4 linked regions of the Homo sapiens genome follow. The protein of the gene in region 2 interacts with the protein of the main gene of each other region in a pairwise test. Each region holds a gene or a part of one and is shown on either strand. Other genes may lie near its edges. The genes, in order: SKIL, PECAM1, EGFL8 and AP1S1.

Region 1 (7,022 bases), on a different chromosome or scaffold from region 2:
ACATACAGTTAGGATAATTTGTTATAAATGTGTTTATGGCTTACCACAGCATATTAGGTAAAATTAGCTTGCAACATTTTATCATGGTTAGTGTTGTGCGTGTCCCCATCATTTGTATTGTTTAATTTATATCTCTGAAAAATGCAGCCTTAGAAACTGTTGGGCTTCCTTGGTGCTTCATGGAGTAGAGGGATATCAAACGTGAAAGAGACCAAGAGTTTTGTGGTAGCAGAATAACCTTGTAAAAGGCTACCTTGGGAATTAATGAGCTGCACTGTCATTCAGAATTCATTCAACAAATAATAGATATTTGATAGATGAGTCCCTACTACATGCTAGGCATATAGTGCTAGGTATTAAAAATACAAAGGTAAGGCTGGTTCTTGACCTCAAGCTGCTGTTTAAGCAGAGGCTGCGTAGCCACTTAACAGGGATTTTAAATAGGGAATTCAGACATTGGCTAGGGGACTATGCTAGGTGATCTTTAAGATTCCTTAGAAGCTCTAGTCTGACTCTTACTGGGTTGGTCAAGACTAGGAAATAAAATAAAGAATAGGAGCTAAGAGGGATGACTGTTTAAAAATAAAGGAATGTGCTAGCAGTTATTTAAGGTGGCACCTGAAGTTTAGAGACACAGAAATAAATAGATGCTAGGTTTGGCTCATGAGTAAAGATAAAACTTACTCTTATAAATCAAACTGTAGGGTTTTGAAATGAACTTGATCAAAATTGAGTCAGATTTCAAGTCAAGGTCTTTGAGCAAATTTAGAATTTGCTTGATATTCTGAAGATTTGAGATTCCAGTATTCATTATAGGAAAAACTTTGAAATATATAAATCAATTTTAGTAATTTTATATTTTTTTCTTTTTCTTTTTTCGAGACAAGCCCCACACTGTTGCCTAGGCTGCAGTGCAGTGGCAGGATCATAGCTCACAGCAACCTCAAACCTGCCAGCTTCAACTGATTCTCCCACCTCAGTCCCCTGAGTAGCTGAGACTACAGGCATGCGTCACCACGGCTGGCCAATTAAAAACAATTTTTTTTGTAGAGATGGGGGTCTCTCTATGTTGTCCAGGCTGGTTTCGAACTGCTGGACTCAAGCAGTCCTTGTGCCTTGGCCTCCTAAAATTCCGGGGCTATAGGTGTGAGCCACTGGGTAGGGCCAATTTTAGTAGTTTTAATTTAAAAAATCTGGAAACAATTGATTTCTTGGGCAGTACATCTAGAATTCTTTCAGATATAACACTTATTTAAAGAGGAGCTTTCTTTGTTTTTTAACAAATGATGTCTAGAAAAGAAATTCTCATTTAATTCAAGCTGATTTTCCTTTTTTTTTTTTTTTTTTTTTTTGAGACGGAGTTTCACTGTCTTGCCCAGGCTGGAGCGCAGTGGCGCAATCTCAGCTCACTGCAACCTCCACCTCCTGGGTTCAAGTGATTCTCCTGCCTCAGCCTCCCGAGTAGCTGGGATTACAGGGATGCACCACCATGCCCAGCTAATTTTTTTTTTCTTATTAGAGATGGGGTTTCACCATTTGGTCAGGCTGGTTTCGAACTCCGGACCTCAAATGATCCACCCACCTCGGCCTCCCAGAGTGCTGGGATTACAGGTGTGAGCCACTGTTCCTGCCCTCAAACTGATCTTAAATTTTACTGATTTGTTAGAATGAACTTATCCTCGTTCATTGACACCTCTTTGGTCATGTAGAGCTGGGGTGCAAAATGTTCTACCCGTTAAGCTACTTTTTAAAAGCATTGTGTTTTTTTAAAAAACTGTTTTCATGAATTGTAAAATGTCTGAAAAAGTTTTGAATCTAAGTGGTATACAGAACATAATTTAGCTATGTCACGTTGACTCAAGAGTTTTTATTTTTTTAACGAGACAGGGTCTGGCTCTGTCACCCAGGCTGGAGTGCCATGGAGCAATCTCAGCTCACTGCAACCTCTGTTTCCTGGGCTCAAGTGATCCTCCTGCCTTAGCCTCCCAAGTAGCTGGGACTACAGGCACACATCACCTTGCCTGGCTAATTTTTGTATTATTATTAGAGATGGGGTTTTGCCTTGTTGCCCAGGCCAGTCTCAAACTCCTGAGCTGAAGCAGTCTGCCCACTTTGGCCTCCCAAAGTGCTAGGTAATATCACAGATGTGAGCCGTTGCGCCTGGCCAACTCAAGATTCTTAAACATTAATTACCATACTTTGTTGAATTGGGGTAGGGGACAATTGAGATATATTAAATTATTTGCCCCGGTCTATGCTAAAGCCTTTACTCAGATTGTCTTGCTTTTTGAAGCAGTTTTTGTGTTTGCATCTTGTAATTTTCCTCTCTCCTTAGGCTGTCAGCTGTCACTTAGCATCTATCATTTAGTATTTCTGTTGCCAGAAGTCAGTTCCCTTTCTTACTGCTATAACTAAGCTATAGGCTGAGGAACTATGTAAATAAGTGATCAGTTTGTTTTATAAATAAGCAGTGGAATTTGCCCAGATTCTGAATATTAGTTCAAAATGTGATGTTTCGTTTTCTGTTTTCCTTTTTTTTTTTGAGATGGAGTTGCACTTTGTTGCCCAGGCTGGAGTGCAGTGGAGCGATCTCAGCTCACTGCAACCTCTGTTCCCCTGTTTCGGTTGATTCTCCTGTCCTCCTAAAGTGCTGGGATTATAGGCATGAGCCACTGTGCCCAGGCCTTTTTTTTTTTTTTTAATTCCACATTTACATATCATGTAGAGACCTTCACTGAATATTCAACTCTTAAATCTTTTAAAAATATTAATTTTTTTCTTATAATTTTGAGGTCTTATTAGTATTTCAAATTCATTGCTCAATAATTCTTTTTTTTTTTTTTTTTTTTTTTTGAGACAGAGTCTCACTCTGTCACCCAGGCTGGAGTGCAGTGGCACGATCTCGGCTCACTGCAACCTCCGCCCTCTGAGTTCAAGCGATTCTCCTGCCTCAGCCTCCTGAGTAGCTGGGATTACAGGCGCCTGCTGCCGCACCCGACTAATTTTTTTTTTTTGTATTTTTAGTAGAGACGGGGTTTCACCATCTTGGCCAGGCTGGTCTTGAACTCCTGATCTCGTGATCCACCCGCCTTGGCCTCCCAAAGTGCTGGGATTACAGGTGTGAGCCACTGTGCCTGGCCTAATTCTTAACAAAAATAAAGATCTCCCACATACATATTTTTTTCTTTTTTTATTTTTGAGACAGAGTCTTGCTCTGTCACCCAGGCTGGAGTGCAATGGCGCCGTCTCGGCTCACTGCAATCTCCACCTCCCAGGTTCAAGCGATTCTCCTGCCTCAGCCTCCTGAGTAGCTAGGATTACAGGTGCGTACCACCACACCTGGCTAATTTTTGTATTTTTAGTAAGACAGGGTTTCACTATATTGGCCAGGCTGGCCTTGAACTCCTGACCTCGTGATTTGCCTGCCTTGGCCTCCCAAAGTGCTGGGATTACAGGCGTGAGCCACTGTGCCCTGCCTATTTTTGTCCTTTAGTTGGCCCTAAGTCATCTCCTGACTGATCAGATTTTAAGATACATATTCTAAGAGCGGTTTCCTTTCTGTTTTCAGCCTGTTTTGTTGAGGGCAGTGGGTTACTTGTCAGATCTCTCCCAGGTTTCTTCATTCTCATTGATTTCCTCCATTAGTAGGATCTCAGTAATCAAACCAGAGTTTGGATAGTTTAGAGTTGATTTTGTTTTAATCACTACTGCTTAACATCCAGAGATCTGTTTGCAGTCCTTAGTTTCTTGGTTCCAAACTGGAATATTGGGACATCAGGCAAAACAGCTTTGCTACTTTCCTAATTTGTTGAATTGGGAATTGGACTCTCTCTCTCTCTCTTTTTTTTTTTTTTTGGAGACAAAGTCTTGCTCTGTCACCCAGGTTGGAGTGCAGTGGCGCGAACTCAGCTCACTGCAACCTCTGCCTCCCGGATTCAAGTGATTCTCCTGCCTCGGCCACCCAAGTAGGTGGGATTACAGGCACTCACCACCATGTCCAGCTAATTTTTGTAGAAACGGCGTTTCTCCATGTTGGCCAGGCTGGTCTCAAACTCCTGACTTCAGGTGATCCACCTCCCTCAGCCTCCCAAAGTTACAGGCATGAGCTGCTGCACCCGACCAGAATTGGAGCTTCTTTTATTTATTTATTTATTTATTTATTTATTTATTTTTTTTATCTTGAGATGGATTCTGGCTCAGTTGCCCAGGCTGGAGTGCGGTGGTGCAATCTCGGCTTACTGCAGCCTCCGCCTCCTGGGTTCAAGTGAGTCTCCTGCCTCAGCCTCCCGAGTAGCTGGGATTACAAGTGCGTACCACCATGCCCAGCTAATTTTTGTATTTTTAGTAGAGACTGGGTTTCGCTGTGTTGGCCAGGCTGGTCTTGCTCCTGACCTCAGGTGATCCACCCTTCTCGTACCACCACGCCCAGCTAATTTTTGTATTTTTAGTAGAGACTGGGTTTCGCTATGTTGGCCAGGCTGGTCTTGCTCCTGACCTCAGGTGATCCACCCTTCTCGGCCTCCCAAAATGCTAGGATTACAGGCATGAGCCACTGCGCCTGGCCATGGAACCTCTTAAAGGTAGGGTTTAGAGAAATATCCAGCTCTCTTTTTTGTTTTTTCCCTTGTTTAACTCGTTCCTAATCGCATTCTCCCTCAGTTTCCTGGGTTTGTCTGTTAACTTCCTATTTTTGTTGGTCACCTTAACCATGCCACATTTCAGCTCTCCTTTCCTTCTTTCCCCTTTCCCTTACCAGTGAGTCTTGCCCCCCCTTTTAAGTATCCTTTTCCCACAAAAGCAAGGTAATTTCGTATAATAGGAAATATGTAGGGGATGAAGGGAGGACAAAGTGTAAATAAAGTAAACCAAAATAAGGGAGAAGTTAGTAACCACAGATCATTTATTCTTTTTTTCTCTTCAATTTCTTTTTTTGTTTTGTTTTGTTTTTTGAGACGATTCTTGCTCTGTTGCCCAGGCTGGAGTGCAGTGGCATGATCTTGGCTCACTGCACCCTCCATCTCCTGGGTTCAAGTGATTCTCCTGTCTCAGCCTCCCGAGTAGCTGGGATTACAGGAGCGCACCACCATGCCTCGTTAAGTTTTGCGTTTTTAATAGAGATGGGGTTTTGCCACGTTGGCCATGCTGGTCTCGAACTCCTGACCTCAGGTGATCCACCCACCTCGGCCTCCCACAGTGCTGGAATTACAGGTGTGAGCCACTGAACCGAGCCCCTCTTCAATTTCTGAACGTCAGTTGTTTTCTCATCTGTAAAATGGTAATGATACCTATTTAATGGGGGATATTTGTTAGAATTAAGAATGATGTATAAAGTTCTCAGCCCGTAGATGTTCATTAAGTTACCAGTTACCTTTCTCCTTATTTTTCTTTATTTTTAGTTATAGCTCATCTTTAAGTATTAAAAAATCCTTTTTATATTTATTAGGAAATATAGTTTAATGACAAGTGTTAGCAAACTATGTGGTTTTGGATTTAATTTGGCAAAGTATTGCTGTAGAATGGTATCTAGCTAATATGCTAACAAATACTGTAGGGATAGGGTATAGTCTAGCCGATTGTAGTACAGGAATAAGAATCAATTTTCCAGTGCTATACCTTTATAGAGTTCTATTATTTAAAATGGATTTCTGGCCAGGCTCAGTGGCTCATGCCTGTAATCCCTGCACTTTGGGAGGCTGAGGAGCAGGGATCACCTGAGGTCAGGAGTTTGAGATCAGCCTGGCCAACATGGCAAAACCCAATCTCTACTAAGAATACAAAAAATTAGCTGGGTGTGGTGGTGGGTGCCTGTAATCCCAGCTACTCAGGATACTGAAGCAGAGAATCGCTTGAACCCGGGAGGTGGAGGTTGCAGTGAGCCAAGATCGCGCCACTGCACTCCAGCCTGGGTGACAGAGCGAGACTCCATCTCAAAAAAAAAAAAAAAATAAATAAATAAAATAGATTTCGTAAGTATGAAATTTGATGCAGTCATTTCTGGTACTCCATGTTAGCATGCATACTGAAACTGTTCTTGTGATGGGATAGTTCATGTGGGTGTCTCTGAGTTTCAGGTGATAATCAGGCTTCTTCAAGGGAAGACTGCCTTATTGGAAGATGACTCTTGAGACAGGGTCTCACTCTTGCCCAGGATAGAGTGCAGTGGTGCAATCATGGTTCAATCATGGTTCACTGCAAGCCTCAACTTCCTGGGCTCAAGGGATTCTCCCACCTCAGTCTCCCAAGTAGCTGGGACCACAGATGTACACCACTGCAACTGGCTAATTTTTTTTTTTTTTTTTTTAAAGAGACTGGGTCTTCCTATGTTGCCCAGGCTGACTCCACGGCTTAAGGAATCTTCCCCACTCTGCCTCCCAAAGTGCTGGGAATACAGGTGTGAACCACTGTGCGTGGCATGATGACTCTTAAATAATGTTAGTTGTCTTTACCCAGTGGCCCAGTCAGGTTGACACATAAAATTAACCTTCACAGTTTTACTTCAATAAATGTTTCCCTTCCATGTTTTTCTGCAGACAGATGCACCATCAGGAATGGAATTACAGTCATGGTATCCTGTTATAAAGCAGGAAGGTGACCATGTTTCTCAGACACATTCATTTTTACACCCCAGGTGAGTTGGTATTTATTTGTTCGTTTGTTCATTCATTTCTTCATTCAACAACTATATGCCATGCACTATTCTAGGACATGGGAATTTAATTATTTATTTATTTTTTTTGGTGGCAGAGTCTTGCTCTGTTACCCAGGCTGGAGTGCAGTGGCGCGATCTCGTCTCATTGCAACCTCCGCCTCACGGGTTCAAGCGATTCTCCTGCCTCAGCCTCCCGAGTAGCGGGGACTACAGGCTCACACCACCACGCCCTCCTAATTTTTTTAGTTTTAGTATAGATGGGGTTTCACAGTGTTGGCCAGGCTGGTCTCGAACTCCTGACCTCAAGTGATCTGCCTGCCTCAGCCTCCCAAAGTGCTGGGATTACAGGTGTGAGCCACTGTGCCTGACCACG
Region 2 (7,022 bases):
ATGGGTGTGCCTTCCCCTGACTTCTCCCGGCTTGGCAAATGAGACCGGGTCCTGGGAGTGGCTGACTACCTGTCCTAGAGCCCTGTATGTCCTGGACACTCCCCAGCTTCCCTCTGCTGTTGCCTCCTTCTCTCCTGGGAGCATTTCCCAGGCCACCTCATTTGTTTGCTGTTTGTCCAACGCAAATCTACGTTGAACAACAGGAGGCCAAGGCTGAGGACCTGGCCCCTCTTTCCTCCCGATCCCCTCCAAACCCAACTTCCTGGTGTCTGACCCTCGATGGCTTAAAGCAGTGGCTTCCAAACTACAGATCACATAATGCATCAGTGTAGTGTGTCATGGCCAGTGTTTAAAGACTGAAATAGGCTGGGCACGGTGGCTCACGCCTGTAATCCTAGCACTTTAGGAGGCCGAGGTGAGTAGATCATCTGAGGTTAGGAGTTTGAGACCAGCCTGGCCAACATGGTAAAACCCTGTCTATACTAAAAATACAAATTTAGCCAGGCATGGTGGCATGCCCCTGTAATCCCAGCTACCCAGGAGGCTGAGGCAGGAGAATCGCTTGAACCTGGGAGGCGGAGGTTGCAGTGAGCTGAAATCATGCCACTGCACTCCAGCTCAGGCAACAGAGCAAGACCCTGTCTCAAAAACACACACAAGGTTGGGGTGGTGGCTCACGCCTGTAATCCCAGCACTATGGGAGGCCAAGGCGGGTGGATCGCCTGACATCAGGAGTTTGAGACCAGCCTGGCCAACATGACGAAACCCCATCTCTACTAAAGATACAAAAATTAGTCAGGTGTGGTGCTGCATGCCTGTAATCCCAGCTACTCCAGAGGCTGAGGCATAAGAATTGCTTGAACCCGGGAGGCAGAGGCTGCACTGAGCCAAGATTGCACCACTGCACTCCAGCTTGGGCGACAGAGCGAGACTCTGTCTCAAAAAAAAAACCCCAAAAACCAAGCCAAACAAACAAAAAGCATCATATATATTAAGAGTAAAGTGTTGTTGGTGAAACTCTTGTCTGAAAAATTGTATGCAATTTAACTGTATAACAGTCAAAAAAGCTTGAAAAATACTGGCTTAAAATGATTAAGAACAGGTCTTAAGTCCTGAGAACAGCAGCCCCTTCCCAGTTCTGGGTTCTTTCTCCCCATACCAAACCAGAAACCACAAAGAACGATGAGGAAGGGAGCAGGATGCTGACCCGTCACGGTGACCAGTTCACTCTTGGTAGATTCTGAGGTCTGCATATGGATCCCAGAAATGATCCTAGCTTGACATCGGAAGGATAAAACGCGGTCCTGTTCCTCAACGGGGAATTCCAGTATCACAAAATTCTGGTCTCGAGAATTCTTCTCTCTTTTCAGCTTGACCATTTTTTCATTTAGTTCAAGTTTTTCAATTGTGAAGTGTATTGGGGCCTTTTCCTCTGGGACAGAACAGTTGACCCTCACGATCCCACCTTGGATGGCCTCTTTCTTGTCCAGTGTCACCCTGGGACTGGGCACTCCTACGGGGAAAGAGAAAGTCTGTCAGTATCAGCCTGATTGAAGAGAAAGTCTGTCAGTATCAGCCTGATTGAGAGACACAAGCCTCCCTCCGCTGAGTGACTGTAGTTGACCCATGAGAGGGCTCTTTTTTGTTCTCTGAACACCCAGTGCGACCTACCAGGTAATAAATGAACAGGTATGTGCCCAGCACAGTACTAGGCACTTTGAAATATATAAAATCTGGAGGCTGAGGTGGGTGGATCTCTTGAGCCCAGGAGTTGGAGACCAGCCTGGGCAACACGGTGAAATGCTATCTCTACAAAAAAAAAAATTAAAAATTAGCCAGGGGTAGTTAGTGGTGTGCACTGGTAGTCCCAGCTACTTGGGAGGCCGAGGTGGGAGAATCACCTGAGCCGAGGAGGTTGAGGCGGCAGTGAGCAGTGATCCCACCACTGCACTCCAGCCTGGGCAACAGAGACCCTGTCTCAAAAAAGAGAAGAAAAGAAAGGAAAAAATATAAAATATGCTCAATGGGAGCTAAGCTATGAGGAAACAAAGGCATAAGAATGATACAGTGGACTTTGGGGACTCAGGGGAAAGAGTGGGAGGGAGCGAGGGATAAAAGACTACACACTGGGTACAGTGTACACTGCTCGGGTGATGGGTCCACCAAAATCACCACTAAGGCCACGCGAGGTGGCTCACATCTGTAATCTCAACACTTTGGGAGGCTGAGGCAGGTGGATCACCTGAGGTCAGGAGTTTGAGACCAGCCTGGCCAACATGGCGAAACCCCATCTCTATTAAAAATACAAAAAATTAGCCGGGCATGGTGGCAGGCACCTGTAATCCCAGCTACTTGGGAGGCTGAGGCAGGAGAATTGCTTGAACCCCGAAGGCAGAGGTTGCAGTGAGCTGAGATCGTGCCACTGCCCTCCAGCCTGGGCAACAGAGTGAGACTCTGTCTAAAAATAAATAAATAAATAAATAAATAAATAAATAAATTTAAAAAATAAAATATGGTCAAGATGTACTTGGTGTTTTCAATGGTTTATAATCCTATTGGGAAGAGGACACAATCAGATTCCCAACAGATGATGCTTAGAGGGGAAAGGTAGCCAGTATTTGTCAGTGTCACTGTGATTGTTGTTACCCTTTATTGAATGCAGCCACAGGCTAGGACTGACTTTAATTTATTCCATGAACATTGACTGAATGCCTACTATGAGCCACATTCATTGTTCAAGATATAAGAATAAACCAAACACCATCTCTGTCTTTACAATTTCACTATCCAGAAGAGCAGACAGATGTGTAAGAATGGATGGCAATACTGAGTGAAATAGAATATTTGTGGACCGGGCATGGTGGCTCACACCTGTAATCCTGACACTCTGGGAGGCCAAGGTGGGTAAATCACTTGAAGTTAGGAGTTCGAGACCAGGCTGGCCAACATGGTAAAACCCCATCCTTACTAAAAATACAAAAAATTAGCCAGGCACAGTGGCGCGTGCCTGTAATCCCAGTTGCTTGGGAGGCTGAGACAGGAGAATCGCTTGAACCCAGGAGACAGAGGTTGCAGTGAGCCAAGGTCGCGCCATTGCTCTTTAGCCTGGGTGACAGAGGAAGACTCTGTCTCAAAATAAATAAATACATTTCTATTTATTAGGAACTCACTAGGTGCTGGAAATTTTGCTAAGCACTCTACCCACATGACACTTTTAACCCTCTCAATAATTGCCTGAAATGGGTATCGTTGTTATCTTCCTTTTACTGGTGAGGATTTTGAAGTTTAGAGCTGTTAAGGGACTTGCCCAGATTGAAACCCAGGCAGAGTGACTGCAGAACGAGGTGTCTTAACACACCGCTGTGGCCTTTATACACACAAATACCATTGAATGTAGAGAGAGCATCAGAGCTGTACTGACTGGCACCCTGGGGTAGACCCATTTTGTTTTGGAAAGAGAAGACATCATTGAGTTGAGTCTTGAAGAAGAAATTTTAATTTATGAGACGAGATGAAGAAGCATTTTGGGAGGCCAAGGCAGGTGGATCACTTGAGGTCAGGAGTTCGAGACCAGCCTGACCAACACAGTGAAACCCCATCTCTACTAAAAATACAAAATTAGCCAGGTGTGGTGGCACACACCTGTAATCCCAATTACTTGGGAGGCTGAGGCAGGAGAATCGCTTGAACCTGGGAGGCAGAGGTTGCAGTGAGCCGAGATCACACCACTGCACTCCAGACTGGGTGACAGAGTGAGACTCCATCAAAGAAAGAAAGGAAGGAAGGAAGGAAGGAAGGGCCTGGCCTATTGGGAATATGTCTAGTGCTTACGTATTCAGGTAAGGAAAATGCCAGGCAGATGAATGAGAGGGTGATGGGTGGAGAGTTAAGTCCAGTGTCACTATTCATTCACAGCTGTTATTCACGCCACTGTGTGCTATGCTCCATCTGCTTGCCTGTGCTCAGTTCCAAGGACTCACCTTCCACCAACACCTGGTACTCTGCAGTGGTTTTCTCTTTGTTGTTCACAATCACAGTACATTTATATGTCCCTGAGTCATAGATCCGGACTTCAGGAATAAAATAACTCTCTGTGCTCTTCATGGAGGAGATGTTGTAAAACAGCACGTCATCCTTATAGAACAGCATCTGGTGCTGAGGCTTGACGTGAGAGGTGGTGCTGACATCCGCGAAGCACTGCAGGGTCAGGTTCTTCCCATTTTGCACCGTCCAGTCCGGCAGGCTCTTCATGTCAACACTGTTGATTGTGAAAGCTAAATGCAAAGGGAAGGAAGGCAGACATACCTGTTATCTCAGAAACAACATCATCCCGGTGACCTTCACCACATCAGATGTGGTCTTATCCCATCCTATGCAGTATTGAGTCCAGGGGTTCTACGTGCCTACAGGGCCAGGCTGATAGTAACTGTGCACAGTGGCTCAAGCAGGAGGCAGTTGGTACTAAGCTGCAACTTTTCCCACCAAGGCAAAGGAACAGAGTGTGATAAAGATGTAGAGCTAGGTATGGTGGCTCACGCCTATAATCCCAGCACTTTGGGAGACCAAGGTGGGTGGATCACCTGAGGTCAGCAGTTAGAGACTGGCCTGGCCAACATGGTGAAACCCCCTCTCTACTAAAAATACAAAAATTAGCCAGGTTTGGTGGTGCAGGCCTGTAATCCCAGCTACTTGAGAGGCTGAGGCACAAGAATCACTTGAACCTGGGAGGCGGGGGTTGCAGTGAGGTGAGATCTCACCACTGCACTCCAGCCTGGGCGACAGAGTGAGACTGTCTCAAAAGACAAAAAAAAAAAAAGATATAGGCATTCTGTGAGCTGCCACATCTTGGCCCCTGGAGGGAGTACAGGATTCAAGCAGTCAAGTGTTCAAGTCCTGGCTCATCATTTACTGTGTGACCCTGGGCAGCTAGACTCTCTGAGCTCAGTTTCCTTACCTGTAGGATGGAGTAATCATATCTCATTAGGTCTTTGCAGGAAATGTACAGGAGAACAGCCAGAACGTCTCCTGTACAGTGCCCGATATACATTAAGTGCTTAATAAATGACTGCTACCTCCATTCCGAAACCAGATGGTCGTGCCCAGGCCCTCCTTCTCCACCCAGGCCTTACCGAATTAGCACAGTCCCAGCTGGCATTTTCTATCTGATGGGCTCTGAGGTTTCACCAGATGGTGAGGACTTGAAACCAGTTTTTAGCCTGCTACTTGCGTTTTCAGCCTCACCTGCTACCAAGAAGCAAAGACTACAGATTCCCCTCTGCCAACGGCAGGAATCTCTGGTCAAGCCTCAAAACAGCCACAATGCTCAATCAGCTATCCAATCTCTGCTAGGAACTAGGCTGTGGGTCAACTGGCCAATTGTGTCATTTCTGGCAAGTCCCCAGAACAGAATTGGCTTATATCCAGTAACCATAGGCTGTCAATAGAATTCAGCTAACTACAGATCACATATTGAGGCTCATTCACAGTAGCAGGCTGACGGAAGGGTGGATTGCTTAAAATTGGGTGCTCTCTAGCTATTGCTGTGTTTTTGTCAGTTGGTTGGTTGTGGGCAACTGCCCTGAAAATTTTCCAGGCTAGAAGATCCTGAACCATGCCCATGGGTCAGGACTTGTATCCAAACTTCAGAGCAGACCAGGGTGAACTGCTTTTTGGAGATCCTCTTGGCAATGCCTGTAGGTGCTTCTGCAGCCCACTTGTGGTCTTAGTTTTACCCCTTGACATATCTCAAAGCACTCACTAGCTTCCCTGTGGTTGTCTTTTCCAAGCACATGAATCTGGGTTTAATCAGCACCATAAAATATTCACTCTCCAAATTCCTGTCAGAAAACAACTTCAAACATCTCATGTTCTATACATGGCTAAAAAAAATATGGATGAAGCTAGGTGCAGTGGCTCACACCTGTAATCCCAGAATTTTGGGAGGCCGAGGCAGGAGGATCGCTTGAGCCCAGAAGTTCGAGACCAGCCTGGGCAACATGGCAAAACCCTGACTCTACAAAAATACAAAAGAATCAGCTGGGCATGATGGCATGTGTCTGTAGTCCCAGCTACTCAGGAGGCTGAGGTGGGAGGATCACCTGAGCCTGGGAGGTCGAGGCTGAAGTGAGCCATGATCATGCCAGTGCACTCCAGCCTAGGTGACAGAGTGAGATCCTGTCTCAAAAAAAAAAAAAAGAAAGAAAAGAGGCCAGGCGCAGTGGCTCACGGCTGTAATCCCAGCACTTTGAGAGGCCAAGGTGGGTGAATCACCTGAGGTCAGGAGTTTAAGACCAGCCTGACCAACATGGTGAAACCCTGTCTCTACTAAAAATACAAAATTAGCCGGGTGTGGTACATGCCTGTAATCCCAGCTACTTAGTAGGCTGAGGCAGGAGAATCGCTTGAGCCCGGGATGCAGAGGTTGCAGTGAGCTGAGATCGCGCCATTGCACTCCAGCCTGGGCAACAAGAGCGAAACTCCATCTAAAAAAAATTAAATAAGTATAAAAAAGAGAAAAAGTAATTGATCTGTAGGGGATTTGGAAAAAAATGTACTGAAAGTCCATGACCATAAAACCAGGTGTTTTTCCCAAATCCCTACACGTCCCCCCAGAAATTTCTACCATGCCCATTCTCAAGGAAGCTACCTATCCAGCATTTGGACCTGGGATTGAAAGTGACTATGTCTGGTATGCTTTCTTAGCCCCCCATCTATCTCCATGAAGTATGAATAATGCAATCATGGAATTTTTTAAAATTTTTGAGTGAATGGAGCAGTCCAATGTTTAAAACTCTCAAAGACAGATGACATGATATGTAAAAACCTCAAAGAGTCTGCAGACAAATTATTAGAAATAAATGTGAGTTTAGAAAGGTGGCTGGATAAGGCCAGGAATGGCAGCTCACACCTGTAATCCCAGCACTGTGGGAGGCCAGGAGTTCGAGATCAGCCTGGCTAACATGGTGAAACCCCGTCTCTACCAAAAATACAAAAATTAGCCAGGCATTGTGGCATGCACCTGT
Region 3 (7,338 bases), on a different chromosome or scaffold from region 2:
CTCCTGACCTCGTGATCCACCCGCCTCGGCCTCCCAAAGTGCTAGGATTATAGGCGTGAGCCCACGCACCCGGCCTTGCCTGGCCAATATTTTTTAATTAAAAGATTTTAACTCCATCTGGCTGGGTGCGGTGGCTCACGCCTATAATCCCAGCACTTTGGGAAGCCGAGGCGGGTGGATCACCTGAGGTCAGGAGTTCGAGAACAGCTGGCTAACATTGAGAAACCCCATCTCTACTAAAAATACAAAAATTAGTGGGCCTGGTGGCGCACGCCTGTAGTTCCAGCTACTCAGGAGGCTGAGGCAGGAGAACTTGAAACCAGGAGGCGGAGGTTGCAATGAGCCGACAGGGTGCCACTGCACTCCAGCCTGGGTGACAGAGCAAGGCTCTGTCTCAAAAAAAAAAGAAAAAAAGGATTTTAAGACCTTTCTATTTTGAAATAATTTCATACTTAAGAAAAGTTTGCGCCTGTAATCCTAGCACTTTGGGAGGCCGAGGCATGAGCCCAGGGGTTTGAGACCAGCCTGGGCAACATGGCAAAACCCTGTCTTTACCTAAAATACAAAAATTAGCTGGGCGTGGTGGTGTGCCCTTGTAGTCCCAGCTACTTGGGAGGCTGAGGTACGAGAATTGCTTGAGCCTAGGAGGCCAAGGCTGCAGTGAGCCGAGATCTCACCATTGCACTCCTGCCTGGGTGACAGAGTAAGACCCTGTCTCAAAAAAAAAAAAAAAAGTTACCAAAATAGCAAAAAGCAGTCATTTATACTCCTCACCTAGATTTCGCAAATGTTAACATTTTGTCATGTTTACATTAATATCTTTTTTCTCTAAATATATATACATTTATTTATATACGTTAATGTTATATTTAAATATAAACATAGATTCAAATTTTCCTGAATATGCGCTCACAGATTATTCAAATTTTTCCAACTGTCCTTACAGAAAAAAATATACAGTGGAAGATCCAAATCAGGATCTTGAGTTGCATGATCTTGTTACGTCTCTTTAGTATCTTTTTGTTTGTTTGTTTGTTTGAGTTGGAGTTTCACTCTTGTTGCCCAGGCTGGAGTGCAATGGCAAATCTCGGCCCACTGCAACCTCCGCCTGCCAGGTTCAAGTGATTCTCCTGTCTTAGCCTCCTGAGTAGCTGGGATTATAGGCGCCCACCACCATGCCCAACTAATTTTGTATTTTTAGTAGAGACGGGGTTTCTCCATGTTGGCCAGGCTGGTCTTGAACTCCTGACCTCAGGTGATCCACCCTCCTTGGTCTCCCAAAGTGCTGGGATTACAGGCATGAGCCACCACACCTGGCCTCTTTTTTTTTTTTTTTTGAGACAAAGTCTCACTCTGTCGCCAGGCTGGAGTGCAGTGGCGCCATCCCGGCTCACTGCAACCTTTGCGTCCCAGAATCAAGCAATTCTCCTGCCTCTGCCTCCTGAGTAGCTGGGATTACAGGCGCCCACCACGCCCAGCTAATTTTGTATTTTTAGTAGAGACAGGGTTTCTCCGTGTTGGCCAGGCTGGTCTCGAATTCCTGACCTCAGATGATCCACCCTCCTCGGCCTCCCAAAGTGCTGGGATTACAGGCTTGAGCCACCACGCCCAGCTAATTTTGTATTTTTAGTAGAGATGGGGTTTCACCACGTTGGCCAGGCTGGTCTTGAACTCCCGACCTCAGGTGATCCGCCGGCCTTGGCCTCCCAAAGTGCTGGGATTACAGGTGTGAGCCACCTCGCCCGGCCAGTAATGCATTTTTGATGGGGTTTCTACAGAAGTGAGGTCGTATCTTCAGTGTATCACCTCATGAAGTACATTATATCCAGTAAGGTAGTTTTGAGTGTCCTCCCTGCTACCTGTCTCCCCAGTAGGCCTTGGGTTCCTTTGGGACCTTAGCCCACCTTGATTTCTTCCTTTCTTTTTTCCTTTTCTTTTTTCTTTCCTTTTTCCTTTCCTTTCCTTTTTGAGATGGGGTCCCGCTCTGTCACCCAGGCTGAAGTGCAGTGGTGCGATCTCGACTCAATGCAACCTCCACCTCCCGGGTTCAAGTAATTATCCTGCCTCAGCCTCTTGGGTAGCTGGGCTTGCAGGCATCTGCCACCATGCCCAGCTAATTTTTGTATTTTTAGTAGAGATGGGGTTTCACCATTTTGGTCAGGCTGGTCTTGAACTCCTGGCCTCAGGTGATTTGCCCTCCTTGGCCTCCCAAAGTGCTGCAATTACAGGCGTGTGCCACTGCGCCCGGCCAGATTTTCTCCAGCTCTTCTGATAACCTCCCCCCAAATCTCTTTGTAGCTTCTTTGGTTTCTATGATGCAAATGAGACCGTCCTGGAGATGGAGGAGCAACTGGTGAGCCCCCTGGGATTACTTCCCCTTCTAGCCGCTGTCCCACCTTATTCCAGAGCCCTCTCTGTGACTCCTGAGCTGAAGGGTTCACCCTGTGGGGAGGAGGTCCAGGATCCCAGCAGTAACTCACTTTGTCTCTCCTTGTGTCTCTCTTCCATGCTTCCACGCCCCTTCGACCACCTTGAAGGTTTATCTGCGGGATTCTTTTGGGTTGAAGACTCTATTGGCCCGGGGGGCCATAGTGAGGTGTCCAATGGCCGGTATCTCCCACACAGCCTGGCACTCCAACCGTACCCTTTATGAGACCTGCATTGAACCTTGGCTCTCCTGAGGATATATTCAGGGGTCCCCAGGAACTCCTCGGTCCAGAGACCAAGTGGTGGCCTTGGAAAGCAGATGTCAGGCTTTGGTGTGCCTGTGACCACCTCATTGCTCCCATATTATCCCCCATTTTTAGTAGAGACGGGGTTTTAGTAGAGACTTGGCCTCCCAGAACCCCCTTCCTCTGCTCCTCCATGAATGACAATTCCAGGCCTCCCCTACCTCATGTCCTCTCATTTGGGGGATTGCTCCGTGCTGTCCCTTTCTCTCAAGGCCGAAGTTGGGAAGTGAGAAACCATGTTTTTAACTTGTGGCTGCTTTTGCTGCTGCTGCTCCTCCGTATCTGGCTGTATGGGTGGAGAACCCACCCCCTGCCCACCACAGGGGTCTCCTTCCAGGCCACTCAGGACATTTTTAGCTTCTCTCCTCCCCATGTTCCCTTTTTTCTCTAAAGTCCCCTGACATCAGCCCTCCCAACTCCTAAGAGGGACTACCCATGAGAGTGGGGTTCTGAGGCTCCCCTATGGGGACAGTTCCGTTCTTGAAGTGTCAGTGTTGGGGAATATCTGTGGCCTATGAGGCCCATCTCAGGTTTGGGGATCCCCCAGTCCCTATGATCAGTGTTGGAGTACCCCCCTGGGAGAGCCTAGTTTCTTTGAGGCCCCAGGCCCTCTTTTAACTACCTTTGAATAGGTGTTATCCCTGTATTTATGGAAATAAAGTTCCATTTCCTCAGTGTGACTTGGCTCATTTCCAGGTGGAGGGGACCTGGCTCCCCAAGGAGGGTGGGGGTGGAGCCTGAGGCCTGGGTGCCCAGATGCCTGGTCTAGGGTGGGGACCCCCTTGGTGTTTCCGCTCTCTCTCAATGCCCATTCTTTGTGGGTTCCTGGTTCTCTGCGGGTTCTTTCCTGCTGAAGACAATTCTCTTCCTCTCCCAGTCCCCAAGACTGGGGGGTTAAGCTCAGGGCTCCAGTGGTTTGGGCCTCAGCCTCATGGGTGGAATGCGCCTGCCACCCCCAGGCTAGACGAGGGGGCAGAGGGTCAGGGTGGGCATTCGTTGTGCCGCTTTTGAGCTTTGTGGGCCAGAGCTGGGTGTAGGGCTGGACAATGAGCCTCCTCTTCCTTGAAAGAAGGAATTTTGGCTGAGACAATAGGGCCCTGTCTGTTCTGGCATGGGGGGTGGTGGCTGACTCAATTCTGTTCCCCCTAAGCCCTAACAAATGTCATGAAGAGAGGGGGGCAGTTTTCCCCTTGGTGCCCTGGGCTGCCCCCCTGCCCCTTTGTGACGACTTGCCCTTCTAGCTTTCCTCAGCTGATCTTGCTTTTTCTCCCATAACCTGAACTGCTTTGTTCCCTGCAGCTGGTTCTCTCCCTGCCCCCTAACTCTCCCCTAGTCTGTTTTGGGTTCAAGGGGGTACTGGTGGTGTTACAGAGCTCATAGCTTCTGATCTGGGGAGTCCAGAAATAGGGGCCTCAGAGGGTTGGAAAGATACTTCTAGGGAGCCCTTTGCTGGGGTGGGGATGAGGGTAGTGGGACTTGACCCTACTGAGCTGACCCTGCTGGAGCTAAGGAGGAGGCTTGTGGGAGGGGGCAGGAATGGGAGGACTCTCTGGCCCAGCCCCTCCTCTCCTTCTTAGCCTGCCAGGCCCACCCACCAGTCTGAGCTGCTTCTGCTGAGGCTGGTCTGCTTGAAGCCTCCCAGGAGAAAGAAGCCAGGTGGGAATGGAGAGAGAGAGGAAGGCAAGTGGGGAGAGAATTTCAAATGGGGAAAGAGTGGGGTTTACTCAGAGCCTTAGGGTGGGCATGAGTTGCGGGGTGTTTTGTTGGAGCAAGGGATGTGCATTTAGGGCGTTATGTGACGGTGTGGGTATATGAGGGGAGTAGCAGTGTGTGAAAGGTGTGGAGTTTCCAGGTGCTTGGTTTGTGTGTACGGTGTGAAGGTATATAGCTAGGGGTTTTTTTTGTTTGTTTGTTTTGTTTGTTTTTTTGAGACGGAGTCTTGCTCTGTCGCCCAGGCTAGAGTGCAGTGGCATGATCTTGGTTCACTGCAACCTCTGCCTCCAGGGTTCAAGGGATTCTCCTGCCTCAGCTTCCCGAGTAGCTGGGATTACAGGCGTCCACCACTGCGCCTGGCTAATTTTTTGTATTTTTTAGTAGAGATGGGGTTTCACCATCTTGGCCAGGCTGGTCTCGAACTCCTGACCTCATGATCCACCCACCTCAGCCTCCCAAAGTGCTGGGATTACAGGTGTGAGCCACCGCGCCCAACCAGCTAGGGTTTTGAAGGTATGAAGTTATAAGAGGGCATGTTAAAGACAGGAGGGTTGGCCAGGCATGGTGGCTCACACCTGTAATCCCAGCACTTTGGGAGGCCAAGGCAGGCGGATCACCTGAAGTCGGGAGTTCGAGACCAGCCTGACCAACATGGAGAAACCCCGTCTCTACTAAAAATACAAAACAAAATTAGCCGGGCGTGGTGGCAGGCGCCTGTAGTCCCAGCTACTCGGGAGGCTGAGGCAGGAGAATGGCATGAACCCGGGAGGCGGAGCTTGCAGCAAGCCGAGATCGCACCACTGCACTCCAGCCAGGGTGACAGCGAGACTCCGTCTCAAAAAACAACAACAAAAAAAAAACCAAAAAAAAAAAACCCTAGCTATATACCCTCACACCCTACAAAACAAAACAAAACAAAATTAGCCAGGCGTGGTGGCGCATGCCTGTAATCCCAGCTATTTGGGAGGCTGAGGCAGGAGAATCACTTGAACCTGGGGGGCGGAGGTCGTGCGGTGAGGCAAGAACATGCCATTGCATTCCAGCCTGGGTAGTAAGAGCGAAACTCCTTCTCAAAAACAAAAACAAAAAAAAACCCAAAAAAAGACAGGAGGGTCATAAGGGGAGGGTTGACTGTGTGTCCCTCCAGGTTGTGCAGAGGGGATTAGAAGTAAGTAGGTTAGAGGGGAGGTGGAGGGAGTGTGCTGGGGTGTGAGCTTTTATGATGCTGAAAGGATCATGATATGCTAAGGACAGGATAGTGTTGGGTTGTACACACAGGTGTAGGCAATCCTGGTGGCTAGTATGTAAAAGTGAATGTCCTGACTCCCTTAGAGGGTACCTGCAGAGTGCCCTTGGAGGGACTAGTGCTGGAGAAATTAATAGGAGAGGGGACGGGCATCCATTAACCTTTTCTTGCCTGCAGCCTGTAGGGTCCAGCGTCAAAGCGAATCATGGGGTCCAGGGCTGAGCTGTGCACTCTCTTAGGCGGATTCTCCTTCCTCCTGCTACTGATACCAGGCGAGGGGGCCAAGGGTGGATCCCTCAGAGAGAGGTGACAACAGAGGGGGTAGGGCCCGGGGTGAGCTCTTCTCAGGAGCCTTCTGCTGGGGGTGGGGCTTCACAGGAGGCAAAACATAACTGTAAGTTTAGAATGGGGGTGAGAGGCTGTCATCTGGAGGGAGAGCGGGGGGCCTCAGTAGCCTCTTGAGGGAAGTGGGACTCCTGGCTCCCCAGGGCCTGGCCTACTCAATCTCTCCCACCTCATCCTCTGGCATGGACGCAGTCAGGGAGTCTGCTCCAAGCAGACACTGGTGGTCCCGCTCCACTACAACGAGTCCTACAGCCAACCAGTGTACAAGCCCTACCTGACCTTGTGCGCTGGGAGGCGCATCTGCAGCACTTACAGGTGAGGGATGGGGAGATGGGACCCCAAGAACCCCAACTAGGACCCGTACTCAGGGTCCTGAGCCGGGCGCTGTGTTCCAGGACCATGTACCGCGTTATGTGGCGGGAGGTGAGGCGGGAGGTTCAGCAGACCCATGCAGTGTGCTGCCAGGGCTGGAAGAAGCGGCACCCGGGGGCGCTCACCTGTGAAGGTGAGGCTGGGTCTTCCGGGCCTTGCGGGAGGCGCGCCCCACGGAGCTGGGGAGCTGGGTCGTCGGTTTGAGTCTGAACCCCACTTCCTCTGTCCTCAGCCATCTGCGCCAAGCCTTGCCTGAACGGAGGCGTCTGCGTTAGGCCTGACCAGTGCGAGTGCGCCCCCGGCTGGGGAGGGAAGCACTGTCATGTGGGTGAGTCAGCTTGTCCTCCCCACCTACCCAGGTGCTTGCCCCCGCCCCCTCTCTCAGCCCCTTCCTTTTTTCGGTAACTAGACGTGGATGAATGTAGGACCAGCATCACCCTCTGCTCGCACCATTGTTTTAATACGGCAGGCAGCTTCACCTGCGGCTGCCCCCATGACCTAGTGCTAGGCGTGGACGGGCGCACCTGCATGGAGGGGTCCCCAGAGCCCCCAACCAGTGCCAGCATACTCAGCGTGGCCGGTGAGTGGGCAGGAGTACGGGCCACCCGAGGGACTCGGGACGGGCGTCCGGGCTCGGGTAGTGGTCACACTCTTGGTCTCCTTTGTCCCTAGTTCGGGAGGCGGAAAAAGATGAGCGCGCTCTGAAGCAGGAGATTCACGAGCTGCGAGGGCGCCTGGAGCGGCTGGAGCAGGTGAGCCAAGCCTGCTGGGTGGGGCGAGGCCAGACGTCACTGTCAATACCCTGAGGCATCTCTTCCTTTCTAGTGGGCCGGTCAGGCTGGGGCCTGGGTCAGAGCGGTGCTGCCCGTGCCGCCTGAAGAGCTGCAGCCAGAACAGGTGGCTGAGCTGTGGGGCCGGGGTGACCGGATC
Region 4 (7,664 bases), on a different chromosome or scaffold from region 2:
ATTCTTGACCTACAAATGATACCAGGTGAAGGGGTGGGTTGCCCCCCACACCTGTGGGTGTTTCTCGTTAGGTGGAACGAGAGATTTGGAAAAGAAAAAGACACAGAGACAAAGTATAGAGAAAGAAATAAGGGGACCCAGGGAACCAGCGTTCAGCATATGGAGGATCCCGCCAGCCTCTGAGTTCCCTTAGTATTTATTGATCATTCATGGGTGTTTCTCCGAGAGGGGGATGTGGCAGGGTCACAAGACAATAGTGGGGAGAGGGTCAGCAGACAAACACGTGAACAAAGGTCTTTGCATCATAGACAGGGTAAAGAATCAAGTGCTGTGCTTTTAGATATGCATACACATAAACGTCTCAATGCTTTACAAAGCAGTATTGCTGCCCGCATGTCCCACCTCCAGCCCTAAGACGGTTTTTCCCTATCTCAGTAGATGGAACGTACAATCGGGTTTTATACCAAGACATTCCATTGCCCAGGGACGGGCAGGAGACAGATGCCTTCCTCTTGTCTCAACTGCAAGAGGCATGCCTTCCTCTTATACTAATCCTCCTCAGCACAGACCCTTTACGGGTGTCGGGCTGGGGGACAGTCAGGTCTTTCCCTTCCCACGAGGCCATATTTCAGACTATCCCATGGGGAGAAACCTTGGACAATACCTGGCTTTCCTAGGCAGAGGTCCCTGCGGCCTTCCGCAGTGTTTGTGTCCCTGGGTACTTGAGATTAGGGAGTGGTGATGACTCTTAAGGAGCATGCTGCCTTCAAGCATCTGTTTAACAAAGCACATCTTGCACCGCCCTTAATCTATTTAACCCTGAGTTTGACACAGCACATGTTTCAGAGAGCACGGGGTTGGGGGTAAGGTCATAGATTAACAGAAACTCAAGGCAGAAGAATTTGTCTTAGTACAGAACAAAATGGAGTCTCCTATGTCTACTTCTTTCTACACAGACACAGTAACAATCTGATCTGTCTTGCTTTTCCCCACAACCAGGATAGTCCAGCCAGCTAACTGTCTGTGCCATCTTATTCTTGACCTAATAAATAGCTGCCGGGCTTGGTGGCTCACACCTGTAATCCCAGCATTTTGGGAGGCCGAGGCGGGTGGATCACGAGGTCAGGAGTTCGAGACCAGCCTGGCCAACATAGTGAAACCCCGTCTCTACTGAAAATACAAAAATTAGCTGGGCGTGGTGGCATGCACCTATAATCCCAGCTACTTAGGAGGCCGAGGCAGGAAAATCACTTGAGCCCAGGAGGTGGAGGTTGCAGTGAGCCGAGATCACACCATTGCAGTCCAGCCTGAGCGACAGTGCAAGAGTCTGTCTCAAAAAAAAAAAATAAATAAATAAATAAATAAGTAGCACCACAATAGTTCAGGCAGCCAATAATCTATGCCACTGGTAAGATATTCCACTAGTATATGTCATATATCTTAGACGATGGTGTTGAAAAGCCTAAGGTGGAGGCAGAGGAGAAAAGAAAACAAAAGCAAAAGGAAGAAGAAAAAGTAAAAGAAGAAAGAAGTTGGGCCCGGGCGCGGTGGCTCACACCTGTAATCCCAGAACTTTTGAGAGGCCAAGGCAGGCAGATCACTCGAGGTCAGGAGTTTGAGACCAGCGTGGCCAACGTGGTGAAACCCCATCTCTACTAAAAAAATAAAACTTAGCGGGGTGTGGTGGTAGATATCTGTAGTCCCAGCTACTTGGGAGGCTGAGGAAGGAGAATTGCTTGATCCGGGGAGGTGGAGGCTGCAGTGAGCCGAGATCGTGCCACTGCACTCCAGCGTGGGCAACAAGAACGAGACTCCGTCTCAACAACAACAACAACAACAAAAAAAAAAAAAAAAAAGGAAGAGTCTGGGAAGAGGAAATGATAGGTACCATTATGAAGTGTTTACAGATACTTGCTATACATTACCTCTAATCCTCAGAACCACCTTGCAAGATATGTACTACTGTCCTCTTTTTTTTTTTTTTTTTTTGAGACAGAAGGCTGAGTCAGGAGGCTGAATCAGGAGAATCACTTGAACCCGGGAGGTGGAGGTTGCAGTGAGCCGAGATTGTGCCACTGCACTCCAGCCTGGGCAACAGAGCAAGACTCCATCTCAAAAAAATAAATACACAAAATAAATAAATAAAGTGGAGACAGGAGGTGAGGCCTTACCAACAATTGCATCATGTGCTACTCAAAAATAATAGCACATTAGTTGCCAACAATTATCTACCATTAACTTTTCTGCATGACAAAATTTAAGATTTTCTCTTATCCTTCTATCCAGACCTCTTTACTTTATCATTTGTGCTAGGGAAGCAGGAGCCTCAGAGAGCCAGCATAAAGCCATTTTAAGTTCAGCTCCATCTTGAAACTAACAAGGCACATTCCTTGTCAGTCACAACCCAAAGCTGTTTACAGTTGGGGAAACAGCTTAAAGATACCTGCAAGGACAGACTCCTCCAACTACAGAAAATCCAGATGCCCCAATACCCATAACAATATGTGCCTTTAAGATAATTATAGTTCTGGCTGGGTGTGGAGGCTAAGGCAGGATTGCTTTAGGCCAGGAGTTCGAGATCAGCCTGGCCAACATTGCAAAACCCCCTCTCTACTAAAGATACAAAAATTAGCTGGGTGTCGTAGCACATGCCTACAATCCCAGTAGTGAGACCCCATCTCTACAACAAAATATTTTTTTAATTAATTGGATGCACTGGTTCATGCCTGCAGTCACAGCTACTTGGGAGGCTGAGGTGAAAGGATGTAGCTGTAATCCAGCTATTAGGGATGCTGAGACACAAGAATGGCTTGAACCCAGGAGGTGGAGGTTGCAGTGAGCTGAGATCACGCCACTGCACTACAGCCTGGGCAACAGATCAAGACTCTGTCTCAAGAAAAAAAAAAAAGGAAGAAAGATAATTAAGTTTTGCTTTGATGTACTTACCTACTAGAATGTCAAGGATAGTTAAATTAACAGAATAATAAATTTTGTCATGCCATTGGCCCATCTGCACATTGACTCGGCTTAGTTTAGTCTCTACAAAAACAAGACCCCTATATAAGAAAAACTTAAAGGTCAGGGGCGGTGGCTCATACCTGTAATCCCAACACTTTGGGAGGCTGAGGAGTGTGGATACCTTGAGTCCAGGAGTCCCAGACCAGCTTGGGTAGCATGACAATACCCTGTGTCTACAAAACATACAACTATTAGCTGGCTGTGGTGGTGCATGCCTGTAGTCCTAGCTACTTGGGAGACTGAAGTGGGAGGATCGCTTGAGCTCAGGAGGTGGAGGCTGCAGTGAACTATGATCATGCTACTACACTCCAGCCTGGGCAACAGAGTAAGACCCTGTCTCAAAAAAAGAAGAAAAAAAAAAAGAAAGAAAGAAAAGAAAAACTTAAGACAGTGTGTTCCTCTGTTTGCTTTCTGAGGACGCCCTACTCCGTAAGGGTGTAGCTTTCAATAAACTCTCTCTTCTCATCGCACTCTACGACTTGCTTTGGGTTCCTTCCTGCATGAGATCCAAGAATTCTCTCTTGGGGTCTGGATCGGGACCCCTTTTTCCAGTAACATGTAGACACACACACACATTCAGTTTAAAAGCCCATATTACAACGTACATCCACCTCATCTTCACACTGAGATTTGGGTGACATCTGTCCCTTTTTGAGTTTTGACCCAAGTTAACCTTTTAAGACGCTCTTTATTTCTTCCCCTTTTGCCTCAGTTCACGTTCCTCCCCCTTCTCCTTACATGCCTTTTATAGCAGCCTCTCCTTTTCTCTTTTATTCTTTTTCTACACATTTCTCTTACTGTAAAATCAGAAGCCAGGCGCGGTGGCTCACGCCTGTAATCCCAGCAGTTTGGGAAACCGAGGCGGGAGGGTCTCTTGAACCCAAGAGTTCGAGACCAGCCTGGGCAACATAGTAAGACCCCCGTCTCTACTAAAAAAAAATTAAAAATTAGCTGGGCATGACGGTGTGCGTCTGTAGTCCCAGCTACTCAGGAGGCTGAGGCGGGAGGATCGCTTGAGGCCAGGAGTTCAAGGCTGCAGAGAGTCACGATCCCACCACTGCACTCCAACCTGGGTGACGCGGCCAGACCCTGTCTCTAAAAAGAAAAAAACTAGAGGGGTGTATCTATCACGCTTTCAATAGATATTCAGCTTGGGTTCTATACTTTTCTCATGACCCTTTGTCTTTCTGTTTTCCAGGTCACTCCTCCTCCCCTACACTTAATTCCCACCCTGCTCCCTTTTCACGGCCCACTCCCCTTCCAGGAGTCCTGCCTGCTGCTTCGAACTCCAATGATCGTCCCATTCACCTCTCACCCCTTTTCCCGCCTTTTTGCCCCACAAGGCTCCAAAGCGCGAGGACCTTATTGTCCTCCTCCCCCATCCTCCAACCAGCCCACAGGACAGCCGCGTTACCATGACGACCGGGCTCCTAGAAGCTGCAGTCAAGGACCTGGTTGCCATGGTTTCCGCTTCTCCGCCTCCAGCCCCGCCCGCGCTCCCCGCGGCGTCGGCGCCTGCGCAGTGCGTGGCGCGCCGGGAGTCAGAGCCTGGGCGGGACGGGGCGGGGCTTCGGGCGAGAGGGAGGGCAGCAGGAGAAAGGATAAGAAAGGGAGTGGGACTGGCGCCTACGGTGGCCGAAGTGGGACGCGCCGAGCCGGAGGCTGCAGGATGGTAGGCTGTGCGAAGAGGGAGGGGAGGGGGAAGCGAGGGGCGTGGGCTGCACCTGCGGGGGTCCTCGGGGGCCGCCCTCGGGGTGAACCGCCCTGTCTTCCCTCTGGTCCTCAGAGGCCTCCCTTGCCTCGGCGGGTGGGCGAGCCGGGCTCGGGAGGAAGAGGGGGAGGTGGCATTCGGGAGAGGGGCGGGGAGGGGGCGCATTTGCAGGGCGAGCGGGGGCTGACGAAGGGGCGGCGGGGCCGTCCCGAGCCGGGAGGGGCGCTCTGGTCTTGGCCCCTGGGGTCCCTCGATCCCCGCTGCAGGGAAGCCGCCCGAAGCAGAGGGTTGCGGGAGTCTCTTTGCTGAGGGAGGGAGCGGGGGTCACCAGTCACCGAGACCCCCTTCCCGGGCTGCACAGGCGGGAGCGGGGACCCGGGTGGGGAGAGGGGTGTGGGAGGGGAGTTTCCGGGTCGGAAAAGGGAGCGCCCTACTGCGTTCGTGGCCGTGCTTGCCTAGAGGCTGGGCCCAGGTAGGGAAGCGAAGTGGACTCGTGGTTTTTCTCCGAGGGACCCAGGCTTTGGGATCCCGGGCTCCGGGGCTCTCTGCCCCCCTTCCCATTCTCTTTCCGGAATCCAGGCCTTCCGTCTTCCTGCTTGCTCCCCACCCCCCTATTTGAGCGCCGCACGAGGCTCCCCAGCGCCCCTCTTTTCCCCTCCACCAAAAAAATCAGTTCTCCTGAATTCTGATTTTTCACTTACTAAGCTAGTACAGTGCCACACACCCAGGGATTCCAAGCCTGGGCATGTCCATGAATAGAAGAGCTACTGGGGTAAGGAGAAGACTCCAGGATGTGGCCCAGACCCCCCGGAACTGGGAAGCTGGGGTACACTGGGCAGTGAGGGTTCTGTCTTCCATCCCACTTGACCCAGCTTGCTGTCTGTTCTGCAGACATTCTTTTAGGGGAACCCCCTGGGTGGCGGGGCCCTAACTGAGGGAAATTGGTCACCTGGTGTCTGGGGAGGAGTGGGCGCTTAGCAGGAGGCACCCTAAAAGGAAGAAAAGTTAAAGAGAAATGTCGAAGACCAAATGCCTGGGTGCCTGCAGAGAGGAAGATAGGATTTGGGCATCTGCATACCCTGTGTGGTGTTGGAGATACATACTACAGAGGAGGATACCCCTGGGCATAGGCCTGGCACTGGAGGATGATATGTTTGGGAGATCATTAAGATCTTATGGCTATGATGGGGTGGAAAATTGAGGTAGCTTCTCCAGGGACAAAATACCAGATTTCAGCATGGTGATGGATAGAGAGAGGGTGGAAGAGAACAGGCATTTCTTTGGCGTCGGTTACTGTCGTCTTGTCACTGTGCTAGGCATTTTACTTACCTTTAGAAAGCAGACCAGAAAGCAAGAGGTCAGGGAATCATGGTAATAATAGTAATAACTAACGGCCGGGCGCAGTGGCTCATGCCTTAATGCCAGCACTTTGGGAGGCCTAGGTGGGTGGATCACCTGAGGTCGGGAGTTCGAGACCAGGGCCTGGCCAACATGGTGAAACCACATCTCTACTAAAAATACAAATATTAGCCGGGCGTGATGGCACGTGACTGTAATCCCAGCTACTCAGGAGGCTGAGGCAGGAGAATCGCTGGAACTTGGGAGGCGGAGATTGCACTGAACAGTGATTGCGCCACTGCACTCCAGCCTGGGCGACAGAGAGAGACTCTGTCTCAAAAATAATAATAATAATAGCTAACATGTTATACTGCCTGCCTGTGCTAGGGACTTGCATATATCAAATCATTTAGTCTCACCTAACAACTGTGCAAGGCAGGTACAATGTCCATTTTACACATAAGGAAACTGAGGCCCAGAGACTTACAGTAGTAATTGGGCCAAGGCCTTGCATAACTAGTAGAGCCAGGATTTGAACCCAGCTGACAGACTCAGAAGCTCTGACTTCCCCCTGCTGGTGGAAACACCCAGCCTTGAGAGCAAGGGGCTGGATGTTGGAAGAAAGTAGAGAAGAATTAGCTGGAGATAAGTTTGGGGAATGTGTGGTTACCCTCGGTTCTGCCCTCCCATCCCCCACAGATGCGGTTCATGCTATTATTCAGCCGGCAGGGAAAACTGCGGCTGCAAAAATGGTACCTGGCCACTTCGGACAAGGAACGGAAGAAGATGGTGCGCGAGCTCATGCAGGTTGTCCTGGCTCGAAAGCCCAAGATGTGCAGCTTCCTGGAGTGGAGGGACCTCAAAGTTGTCTATAAGAGGTGACTCCCCACCTACTTTCAGACCTGCCTAGATTCAAGTTGGGCAGTGGGTTAAAATGTCTGAGAAATGGTCGTCCTGTAGGTCAGGGAGACCTGGGAGCTGAGGACATCTGGAGGACAGTAATGAATGTCAGCTTCCTTTTTTTTTTTTTTTTTTCTCCCCAAACTCTTAAAGAAGTTCTTGTTTACCACTTGGTTTTGCTCACGTGCAACACCTGCCTCACTCACGTGTCCCTTTGGGCCCTGTCTTGCCCCACTGCGCATGTCCCTTGCAGTCAAAGGTCCTGCCCTACTTTTCCTAACACACACGCACACACACACCCTTTCCGGTTCCTTCTCCTCGGAGCAGGTAAATTACTTGGCTCAGGTTTTTGCTGAGTCAAACTTAGGAGGTCAGAGGGCAGGAAGGAAAAAGCATGCGTTCTTTGCATGTTTTTAAGACAGCACAAAGAGGCAGGTGAGTTACTCTTTACATGCCCTAGGGCCACCTCACCTGTGGCCAGCCAGGGCACAGACCACCTCCAGGCTGGTGAGAGGTTTGAGACCAGAATGCCTGGGTCCTGAAGCAAGCTTGTAGCGATGTCTCATGCGCTCCTCTCCGCAGATATGCCAGCCTCTACTTCTGCTGCGCCATCGAGGGCCAAGACAATGAGCTCATCACACTGGAGCTGATCCACCGATACGTGGAGCTCTTAGACAAATACTTTGGCAGTGTAAGT

Evidence for each region.
Region 1: the proteins of PECAM1 (region 2) and SKIL interact in binary tests that used the Homo sapiens proteins (3 or more experiments, as listed by UniProt).
Region 3: the proteins of PECAM1 (region 2) and EGFL8 interact in binary tests that used the Homo sapiens proteins (3 or more experiments, as listed by UniProt).
Region 4: the proteins of PECAM1 (region 2) and AP1S1 interact in binary tests that used the Homo sapiens proteins (3 or more experiments, as listed by UniProt).

The regions. Positions count from the first base shown.
Region 1 is NC_000003.12:170,374,714-170,381,735, forward strand, and holds part of SKIL (ski-like protein), read left to right. Parts: intron 1-6,530; coding exon 6,531-6,628; intron 6,629-7,022. UniProt on the Homo sapiens protein: May have regulatory role in cell division or differentiation in response to extracellular signals.
Region 2 is NC_000017.11:64,373,844-64,380,865, forward strand, and holds part of PECAM1 (platelet endothelial cell adhesion molecule precursor), read right to left. Parts: intron 4,275-7,022; coding exon 3,981-4,274; intron 1,514-3,980; coding exon 1,208-1,513; intron 1-1,207. UniProt on the Homo sapiens protein: Cell adhesion molecule which is required for leukocyte transendothelial migration (TEM) under most inflammatory conditions.
Region 3 is NC_000006.12:32,160,270-32,167,607, forward strand, and holds the start of EGFL8 (epidermal growth factor-like protein 8 precursor), read left to right. Parts: upstream 1-4,325; 5' UTR 4,326-4,388; exon of another isoform or gene 4,389-4,412; intron 4,413-5,868; 5' UTR 5,869-5,896; coding exon 5,897-5,997; exon of another isoform or gene 5,998-6,228; coding exon 6,229-6,351; intron 6,352-6,431; coding exon 6,432-6,541; intron 6,542-6,640; coding exon 6,641-6,736; intron 6,737-6,817; coding exon 6,818-6,988; intron 6,989-7,080; coding exon 7,081-7,160; intron 7,161-7,233; coding exon 7,234-7,338. Other genes in the region: lysosomal thioesterase PPT2 isoform b precursor, read left to right, coding at 2,299-2,353, 2,538-2,681.
Region 4 is NC_000007.14:101,149,828-101,157,491, forward strand, and holds the start of AP1S1 (AP-1 complex subunit sigma-1A), read left to right. Parts: upstream 1-4,648; 5' UTR 4,649-4,687; coding exon 4,688-4,690; intron 4,691-6,766; coding exon 6,767-6,945; intron 6,946-7,549; coding exon 7,550-7,658; intron 7,659-7,664. UniProt on the Homo sapiens protein: Subunit of clathrin-associated adaptor protein complex 1 that plays a role in protein sorting in the late-Golgi/trans-Golgi network (TGN) and/or endosomes.